2 separate regions of the Homo sapiens genome follow, and region 2 is linked to region 1. Evidence: fine-mapped expression QTL. A gene starts in region 1. The other region holds a variant in brackets. All regions are shown on one strand. Distances are from middle to middle.

What was found. PIP is the estimated chance that this variant, and not a neighbour inherited with it, causes the effect.
Region 2: its variant is the best candidate, but not a certain one, in a credible set for the expression of ZNF487 in whole blood (TOPMed, PIP 0.82).

What each region holds. Positions count from the first base shown.
Region 1 is chr10:43,434,623-43,439,997 of GRCh38, forward strand. ZNF487 (zinc finger protein 487) reads left to right here and starts at 2,489. Exons shown (of 4, transcript NM_001355444.3): 1 at 2,489-2,640. RefSeq lists an enhancer at 1,944-2,013 and a silencer at 2,114-2,773.
Region 2 is chr10:43,534,003-43,539,377 of GRCh38, forward strand. No RefSeq gene overlaps it. Among named protein-coding and RNA genes, the nearest start is that of ZNF239, 38 kb to the right of the region's middle. The variant T/G (reference allele first, on the strand shown) is at 2,401.

The DNA of each region.
Region 1 (5,375 bases):
TTACAGGCGTGAGCCACCGCGCCCGGCCACTCAAAGATTATTTCAACAATTTTAGGTGGGGCGCGGTGGCTCATGCCTGTAATCCCAGCACTCTGGGAGGCCGAGGCAGGCGATCACTTGAGGTCAGGAGTTTGAGACCAGCCTGGCCAACCTGGTGAAACCCCATCTCTACTAGGTGGCAGGTGCCTGTAATCCCAGCTATTCGAGAGGCTGAGACAGGAGAATTGCTTGAACCTGGGAGGCAGAGGTTGCAGTGAGCCGAAATTGTGCTACTTCACTCCAGCCTGGGCGACAGAGCAAGACTCCTTCTCAAAAAAAAAAAAAAAAAATTTTTTTTAAATCCAGAAAGCAGGAGGAATAGAGAGGAGCTAAAGCTGTCATTGGAGAAAAAGCAGTAATTACTCATGCTAGCTGAAGAAGGGATGTTTATTCTTCTGTGTGTGTGGTTGCGCAGTGCCAGTTTTTATTTATGCAGGCAAGATCACTGATCGGAATTATTTTCTCCTTCCCTCAGTCACAGAAAGAACTCGTCTGATATCAATTTTCTGTGAACCTGTTTATGTTCATCAAGTAATCCAGGCCAGCTACCGTGGGTCTCAGGGCTTTTTTTTTTTTTTTTTTTTTTTTTTGGGACAGAGTCTCGCTCTTGTTGCCCAGGCTGGAGTGCAATGGCGAGATCTCGGCTCACAGCAACCTCTGCCTCCCGGGTGCAAGCTATTCTCCTGCCTCAGCCTCCCGAATAACTGGGATCACAGGCATGTGCCACCACACCCAGCTAATTTTGAATTTTTAGTAGAGTTGGAGTTTCACCATGTAGGCCAGACTGATCTTAAACTCCTGATCTCAGGTGATCCACCCGCCTTGGCCTCCCAATGTGTTAGGATTACAGGCGTAAGCCACCACGCCCGGGCTTTTTATTTTTTTTCTTAATGATGCTGCACCTAATCACATTTAGGTGGCAGGCAAAAGAATATTGCTTAGCTGCTTTGCTACAGAAATGACAACTCTTGGGCAGGGGCGCGGTGGCTCACGCCTGTAATCCTACCACTTTGGGAGGCCGAGGCCAGTGGATCACCTGAGGTCAAGAGTTCGACACCAGGCCGGGCACGGTGGCTCATGCCTGTAATCCCAGCACTTTGGGAGGCCGAGACGGGCGGATCACGAGGTCAGGAGATCAAGACCAACCTGGCTAACACGGTGAAACCCCGTCTCTACTAAAAATACAAAAAATTAGCCGGGCGTGGTGGCGGGCGCCTGTAGTCCCAGCTACTCGGGAGGCTGAGGCAAGACAATGGCGTGACCCTGGGAGGCGGAGCTTGCAGTGAGCTGAGATCGCGCCACTGCACTCCACCCTGGGTGACAGAGCGAGACTCCGTCTCAAAAAAAAAAAAAAAAAAAAAAAAAAAGAGTTCGACACCAGCCTGGCCAAAATGGTGAAACCCCATCTCTACTAAAAACAAAAAAAATTAACCGGGCGTGGTGGCGGACGACTGTAATCCCAGCTACTCGGGAGCCTGAGGTAGGAGAATCACTTGAACTCGGGAGGCGGAGGTTGCAGTGAGCCAAGATCGCGCCACTGCACTCCAGCCTGGGCAACAAGAGCGAAACTTCGTCTCCAAAAAAAAAAAAAAAAAAAAGGACAACTTTTGATCCCTGAGGCTGCTAATTCCAACTGTGTGCATGTGCTTAACAAATACCTCCGCACCCAGGCCTGGGAAGTTGGCTGATTTGTGTACAGCAAATACGGCAGGCCTGATGTAGCAGAACTCTGACGAAAACGAACTGGACGCGTATTTCTCCTGCAGCGAAGGTCACGCTGCTGACAGCCTCTGCTTTGCACTTTGTCCCTGGGAAGGAGGCCTGTGGCCAGTCCTACCTCCTGGAAAGCCGGGGTGCGTCAGAGGACCTGATGCGGAGCGGGGACCCCATCCTCTCCGTGTCTCCCCAAGAGCCGGCGGCAGAGGCTGCCTGCGCTCCTTAAGCTAGGTCAGTTCTCTGGCCCGCAGTTCTCGTTCTCCTAACATCCTCCGCAGAAAACGACCTTCATTTTTTCCTCTTGCGCCAGTCTTGAAGCGGGGCGTCCTTTGGGCTCACGTTGCGGCGCCCAGCGGCCTCAAGCGTCAGCTGCCTCCAGGGCCTCAGGAGCAGTGGCTAGGGCCTGCCCTCCAGCGCCCGGGGTCCTCGGCCCAGCCCTGCTCCGAGCGCGTCACAATGGCGTCGCGGCCCCGCCCCCGGACGCCCAGCCGCGGTCCCAGCGACCTTCGCTTTCGTGGGGAAGCCGGACTGCGCCGTGTCTTCCTGAAGAAGGCTGGGGTAAGAGTCCGGCCAGCGGACAAGAGGGCAGCTGGTAGCAGGGTGGGATGCCCGTGGCATAGGGCCGAGCCCCCGCTAGGCACGCGGGAGCAGCAAGGCTTCCGGAAGCGCAGGGAGCGCTGGACTGGCGGGCGCCCGGGATTCGCGCAGGCCCCGCCCCTCGGCGGCCCCGCCCAGGGAGCGCTGCGGCAGTTTCCATGGTGAGATGGTCAACAAGCCTGTAAGTTCCTCAGCTACGACTACCAGGTACCTCGGGTTCCTCCCTCCTCCGAGAGACCGCCGAGGTGCGGGCTGTGAGAGGGGGAGCGTGGAGCCTCCGAGGCCGAGGTGAGGGGCGGCCGGCGGGCAGGGGCCGGGTCTGAGGTCGAGGGCCGCACACCCAGGATCGAGCGGGGACTGGGCCCGCTGGGGGTGGGGACCGTGGGGCTGGGATTTGGGATCAGGGCGAGTCGTGGCAGAGAGAACCCGGAGGATCTTTGACCCCAGTGCGGGAGCGGCCAGCCCACCCTAGAGAAGCGAGACAAGGGCAACCAGAAGGAACCGAGTCTGAGGAAGCGCTTCCTCTGGGCAGGGATATTGGGAGAGTCCTGGACGAGTGACCCTGGACCTAGGAGGCATGAGAGGTCTACACACACTTGCAAGGATACCTTCATGATTGTTGAGTTGTGGTGAGAAAAGAGGCTCTTTTTAGTTTATTTTTTAAGGCAGTACATTCACATCCTTAAGAGTCAGAAACTTGCACAAGGCCTTATTACTCAAAACTCCCTTTTCCCAGTTCCTTCTGAGGAAATAGTTGCAAATCTTTGAACTTTTTTCCTCCGGAAATTTTCTTTTTTTCTCTTACATCGGCAGCTCTTCACTGTGTTCTTCCTTCATTAGCTTTACTAAGTTTGTATTCTTTGGTTGGAAATATTTATTTATTTATTTATTTATAAATAGAAACAGGGGTATCACTATGTTGCTCAGGCTGGTCTTGAACTCCTGGGCTCAAGTGATTCTCCTGCTTTAGCTTTCCAAAGTGCGGGGATTACAGGCTGAACCACCGCCTGCCACCGAAATATTTCTTCATTGAGTTCCTTTGCCTCCTAGTGTTACTTTTCTGCTGTGTGTGTAATAGCCATTTGTTTTTTCTTTCTCCTTTCTGGTCATATCCTTAAATACATTTTGCACTAATTCCTTTTGAAACCTCATCATGGAGAGAACTTGAATTTAGCAGATTAGGGGTGAGTGCAGGCTTTTGTCTTAGGTTCCATATATATATATATTTTGAGGTGGAGTCTCCCTCTGTCGCCCAGGCTGGAGTGCAGTGGCGTGATTTTGGCTCACTGAAACCTCCACCTCCTGGCTTCAAGCAATTCTCCTGCCTCAGCCTCCCAAGTGACGAGGGTTACAGGCACGTGCCACCACACCCGGCTAATTTTTGTATTTTTAGTAGAGACAGGGTTTTGCCTTGTTGGCCAGGCTGGTCTCGAATTATTGACCTCAGGTGATCCACCTGCCTCAGCCCCCCAAAGTGCTGGGATTACAGGCGTGAGCCACTGCACCCAGCCCCCATATATTAAGAAATATACCCTTGTGTATTGTTGGTAAGAATGTAAAATGGTACAGCAGCTATGGAAAACAGTATGGCAGTTCCCTCAAAAAATTAACAAATAGAATTGCCATATGATCCAGCAGTACCACTTCTGGGTCTGAATCCAAGAGAAATGAAAGCGGGGACTCAGTTACTTGTACAGTCATGTTCATAGCAGCATTATTTGCAATAGTCAAAAGGGAGAGGTAACCCCAGTGTCCATTGATAGATGGATAAACAAAATGTGTCATATACAATAGAATATCATTCAGCCTTAGGAAGAAAATCTTGGCTGGATGCAGCGGCTCATGCTGGTAATCCCAGCACTTTGGGAGGCCAAGGTGGGAGGATTGCTTGAGTCCAGGAGTTCCAGACCAGCCTGAGCAACATAGCGAGATCCTGTTTCCACAAAAAATAAAATAAAATAAAGAATACAAAAATTAGCTGGGCAGGCCGGGCGCGGTGTCTCACGCCTGTAGTCCCAGCACTTTGGGAGGTCGAGGTGGGTGGATCAGAGGGTCAGGAGTTTGAGACCAGCCTGGCCAATATGGTGAAACCTTGTCTCTACTAAAAGTACAAAAATATTAGCCGGGCATGGTGGCACATGCCTGTAATCCCAGCTACTTGAGAGGCTGAGGCAGAAGAATTGCTTGAATCCGGGAGGCCGAGGTTGCAGTGAGCCGAGATCACGCCACTGCACTCCAGCCTGGGTGACAGAACGAGATTCCGTCTCAAAAAAAAATCAGCTGGGCATTGTGGCATGTGCCTGTAGTCCTAGCTACTCTGGAAGCTGAAGTCGGAGGATTACATGTGCCTAGGAGGTTGAGGCTTCAGTGAGCCATGATTGCACTGCTGTACTCCACCCTGAGTGACAGAGCAAGACTCCATCTCTTCAAAAAATAAAAATAAGATGGCCGGGTGCGGTGGCTAACGCCTGTAATCCCAGCACTTGGGGAGGCCGAGGAGGGCAGATCACCTAAGGTCAGGAGTTCAAGACCAGCCTGGCCAACATGGTGAAACCCTGTCTCTACTAAAAATACAAAAATTAGCTGGGCATGGTGGTGGGCGCCTGTAATCCCAACTACTCAGGAAGCTGAGGCAGGGAGAATTGCTTGAACCTGGGAGGTGGAGGTTGCAGTGAGCCGAGATGGCACCACTACACTCTAGCCTGGGTGACAGAGTGAGACTCCATCTCAAAAATAAATAAATAAGTGAAAATAAAAAAGAAAATGTCATATGCTGCAACATGGATGAATGTTGACGATATTATGTTAAGTGAAGTAAACCAGTAATGGACAAATATTGTATGATCCCCACTTATATGAGAATCTGAAGTAGTCAAATTCATGTAAACAGAAAAGTAGAATGGTGGTTGCTAGAGGCTGCGGTAAGGAGGAATGGGAAGTTGTTTAATGGGTACAGAGTTTCAGATTTGCAAGATGAAAATGTTCTAGAGATCTGTTTCACAACAATGTGAATCTACTTAAGA
Region 2 (5,375 bases), 99 kb after region 1:
GTTCTCATGAGATCTGATAGTTTAAAAGTGTAGCACTTACCCCTTTTCTCTGTCTCTCCTGCTCTGCCATGGTAAGATGTGCCTTGCTTCCCCTTCACTTTCAGCCATGATTGTAAGTTTCCTTAGGCATCCTCAGCCATGTGGGACAGGACTGTGCGTCAATTAAACCTCTTTTCTTTATAAATTACCCAGTCTCATATAGTTCTTTATACCAGCGTGATAATGGACTAATACACCATTATTACTAAACTACTTACCCGGTAAGGAATCCAGAGAGGCCAGACATGGTGGCTCATGCCTGTATTCCCAGCACCTTGGGAGACGAAGGCACCAAGGCAGGAGGATTGCTTGAGCCCAGGATTTTGAGACCAGCCTAGGCAACATGATGAGACCCTGTCTCTATATTAAAAAGTTATTATTAAAAAAGAATCCACATAGTGTGACTGTAAACTCAGAGTCAGCCAAATGGAATAATAAACTATGCAACAGTTAAATACAAAATTATTTAAAGGATTTTTGCTTCCACCTATAAAAGGAATTTTTGCTTCCACCCATTCTCCAGTATTTGTGGTCTTAAACAACTGGCAAACTGGCCAAGATAGATGAAATAACTAGAAAACTGGAAAAATGTATGAAACAACTGTTTTAAGACTTGGATATTAGGAATTGCACAACCATGATTCTTGAAAGAAAGGAAGCAAATATGGCCAGTCTTATGATTGGCACAGCTTCTTGTCAGAAGGAAATTCCTAGACTATGGCATAGATAGAGATAACTCCAAACATATTCTTATTCTTTGAAGCATAAATATTTCAGAGTTCAAGAAGTTTAAGGCAGCTGTAGTATGTGGACTAGCATACTGGAAAGGGAGCTAGCAGAGACAATTTGAGAAATCTGAGTACCAATCTGCATATGCAACGGGTCATGTTCTTTAAGGCTTGGCAAAGAACAGCTGCTGCCAAAGGAGCAATTATTGGGGAACTCAAAGACAAACACTTCCCAGATCTCATACAGAGTTGGGAATAATTCAAGCTCCCACCAGCCAAGACTCTTTCTCCTTCAGTTCCTGAGATGACAGTCTCTTTCTCCATTAGTATGGATTTTTGAAGATCCCATGGATATATTGGGAGTGGGCAAGGATTGGGCATGTTTGAGATGCTGTATTGATCTGCTTGGGCTGCCATAACAAAATACCACAGACTTGGTGGCATAAACAACAGACATTTATTTTTGCATAATTCTGTAGGCTTGAAGTCCATCATCAAGGTGCTGGCAAATTCTCTTTCTGGTAAGTGCTTCCTGGCTTCTGGATTGCTGCCTTCTCACTATATCCTCACATGGCACTTCCTCATGGCTTGCAGGGTGGGGGATGGGGAGATAGAGCATGTGCTCTAGTATCTCTTATTTGAAAGACATATTCTATTAGATCAGGGCCCACTCCTACTACCTTATTGAACCTTCCCTGCTGCCAAAGAGGCCCTATCTCAAAATAAAGCCACACTGGGGCTTATCGCTTCAATATATGAATTTTGGGGGGACACAAACATTTCATTTATTATATTCTGCTCCTAGCCCCTCAAAGTTCATGTCCTTGCATTTGAAATACATGCATTCCATCCCAACAATCCCAAAAGTGTTACTCATTCCAGCATTAATTCTGTAGATCTGAAGTCCAAAGTGTCATCTAAATATTATCTAAATCATGAAAGGGTGACCATTGAGGTATGATTCATTCTGAGGCAAAGTTCCTTTCCAGGTATGAAACAAGTGAAACCAGACAAAGTATGGGCTTCCAAAATGTAGTGGTTGTATATGCATAGGATAGACATTCCTGTTCCACAAGGAAGAAATCTGAAAGAAAGGAGTGACGGTCCCAAGCCAGTCCAAAACCAGCAAAACAAATTCCATTAGATCTAAGGCTTGAGAATGACCTCTTTATTGGCCAAGCATGGTGGCTCATGCTTGTAATCCCAGCACTTTGGGAGGCCAAAGCGGGTGGATCACTTGAGGTCAGGAGTTCAAGACCAGCCTGAAACATGGTGAAACCCCTTCTCTACTAAGATTATAAAATTAGCTGGGCGTGGTGGCACATGCCTGTAATCCCAGCTACTTGGGAAGCTGAGGCAGGAGAATTGCTTGAATCCGGGAGATGGAGGTTGCAGTGAGCCAAGATCATGCCATTGCACTCTAGCCTGGGCAACAATAGCAAAACTCTGTCTCAAGGGAAAAAACAAAACAAAACACCTCTTTGGCTCAATGCCCTTCCTGCCTGGGGTGGTGGCCTCAACCCCCATGGCCCTAGGTGGTTGTTCCACCACATACTCTGTCGGGTGGACCTGCCCACAAGGCCCTAGGCAGGGTTAACCTGGCCTGTTTAAACTGAAGAAATGGTGGCTTTAT[T/G]CTTTGAAACCAAGGAGGGAGCCTTTATGATCTTTGGGGTCATTCTTCCCTTTCAAAGAATAGTGCATCTCCCAACCAAATAGCTCTGTTGTCCCATCCTGCAAAATCCAAGAAGCCCAGCAGTCTTCCCTTTTCCATCACCTTCAGTTCAATTTGACAGTATTTCTACTTATATAATCCCTTAATCTCTCTGTTGAGCGGCAATCCAGTCACATCCTCAGTGTTTTCTTCAGAACATGCTTCTCTTTTGCAGTGTGGATAGGCTCAGAATTTTACAAATCTTTAAGTTCTTGTTCGCTTTTGCCAATCATTTCTTCAATTCTCTGTCTTCTCAGATTTTACTGTAAGCAATCAGAAAGACCCAGGCCACACCTTCCTTGTTTTGCTTAGAAATCTCAACTAAATATCTGGTTTTATCACTTGCAAATTCTACTTTCCACAAAACTAGAACACAACTCAGCCAGCTTTGCCACCTTATAACAAGGATTGCCTTTCCTCCAGTTTCCAGTAACACGGTCCTCATTTCTGTTTAGGCCTCACCAGAATGGCCTTTCACATCCACATATCTATGAACATTGTGTTCATGTTGACATATGTATTCTGGGACAATAGAGGCTCTCTCTGTTTCTCTTACTTTCTTTTTGAGCTCTCACCAGAATTTCCTTTAATCTTAGTATTTTCACCAACAGTCCCTTAAGGCAATCTAGGCTTTTTCTAGCATGTACTTTAAAGCTCTTTTGGCCTCTTCCCATCACCCAGTCCCAAAGCCACTTGCACATTTTTAGGTATTATAGCAGCACCCCACTTTATGGTGCCAAAATCTGCATCAGTATGCTTGTGCTGCCTTAAGATACTACAGAAGGGGCCAGGTGCAGTGGCTCATGCCTGTAATCCTAGCACTTTGGGAGGCCAAAGCCAGCAGATCACTCGAGCTCAGGAGTTCGAGACCAGCCTGGGCAACATGGCAAAACCCTGTCTCTACTAAAAATACAAAAATTAGCTGGGCATGGTGGTGGGCACCGGCAGTCCCAGCTACTCAGGAGGCTGAGGTGGGAGGATCGCTTGAACACAGGAGGCAGAGGTTGTAGTGAGCCAAGATAGCACCACTGCACTCCAGCCTGGGTGACAGAGTGATAATCTGTCTGTAAAATAAAATAAAATAAAATAAAATACAATTCTACGGAAGAGATTGCTTAACTAACAGAAACTTATTCTCTCACAGTTCTGAAGGCTAGAAGTCCCAGACTGAGTTCCTGGAAGATTAAGTTTCTTGTGAGTGCTCTCTTTGTTCCTGGCTTACAGATGGCCACCTTCTTGCTATGTCCTCACATAGCCAGCCAGCCAGCCTTCCTTCCTTCCTTTCTTCCTTCCTTCCTCTTCCTTCTTCTTCCTTCCTTCTTCTTCTTTTCTTTTTCCTTCCTTCGTTCCTTTGTTGTGGAAAGTCAGGGACCCTGAACGGAGGGACTGGCTGGAGCTGTGGCAAAGGAACATAAATTGTGAAGATTTCATTTTAATATGGACATATATCAGTTCCCAAATAATACTTTTATAATTTCTTACACCTGTCTTTACTTCAATCTCTGAACATAAATTGAGAAGATTTCATTTTAATATGGACATTTATCAATTCCCCAATAATACTTTTATAATTTCTTATGCCTGTCTTTAATCTCTTAATCCTGTTATCTTCATAAGCTGAGAACATACGTCACCTCAGGACTATTGTGATAATTTTGTTAACTGTACAAATTGATTGTAAAACGTGTGTTTGAACAATATGAAATCAGTGCACCTTGAAAAAAACAGAATAACAGTGATTTTCAGGGAACAAGGGAAGACAACCATAAGGTCTGACTGCCTGTGGGGTCAGGCAAAATAGAGCCATATTTTTCATCTTTCAGAGAGCCTATAAAAGGATGTGCAAGTAGGGAAGATATCACTAAATTATTTTCCTAGCAAGAAATATTAATAAATAATACCCTGGGGAAGGAATGCCTTCCTTGCGGGAGGACTATAAGTGGCCGCTCTCGGAGTGTCTGTCTTAGGCAGTCTCTGAGATAAGGACTGAAATACGCCCTGGTCTCCTGCAGTACCCTCAGGCTTACTAGGATTGGGAAACTCCACCATGGTAAATTTGTGGTCAGACTGGTTCTCTGCTCTTGAACCCTGTTTTCTTTTGTTTAAGATGTTTATCAAGACAATATGTGCACAGCTGAACATAGATCCTTATCAGTAGTTCTGATTTTGCCCTTGTCCTGTTTCCTCAAAAGCATGTGATCTTTATTCTGCCTTTTGTCCTTTGAAGCATGTGATCTTTGTGACCTACTCCCTATTCGTACACCCCCTCCCCTTTTGAAATCCTTAATAAAAACTTGCTGGTTTTGTGGCTCAAGTGGACATCACAGTCCTATCGATATGTGATATCACCCCCAGAGGCCCAGCTGTAAAATTCCTCTCTTTGTACTCTTTCCTTTATTTCTCAGCCAGCCATCACTTATGGAAAATAGAAAGAATCTACATTGAAATATTGGGGGCTGTTTCCCCCGATATTTTTCCTTCCTTCTTTCTTTTCTTTCTTTCTCTTTTTTCTCTCTCTTTCTTCTTTCTTTCTCTCTCCTTCCCTTCCTTCCCCTCCTTCTCTTCTCTTCTCTTTCTTTTTTTCAGAGTCTTGCTCTGTCTCACAGGCTGGAGTGTAGTGGTGCCATCTTGGCTCACCACAACTTCCACCTCCCAGGTTCAAGCAATTCTCCTGCCTCAGCCTTCTGAGTAGCTGGGATTACAGGCGTGAGCCATCATGCCCAACTAATTTTTGTATTTTTAATATAGACAGGGTTTCACTGTGTTGGCCAGGCTGGTCTGGAGCTCCTGACTTCAGGTGATCCACCTGCCTCAGCCTCCCAAAGTGCTGGGATTACATGCATGAGCCTCCTCTTTGTCTCTTTGCCTTCTTTCCTTTTTTCCTTCCTTCCTTCCTT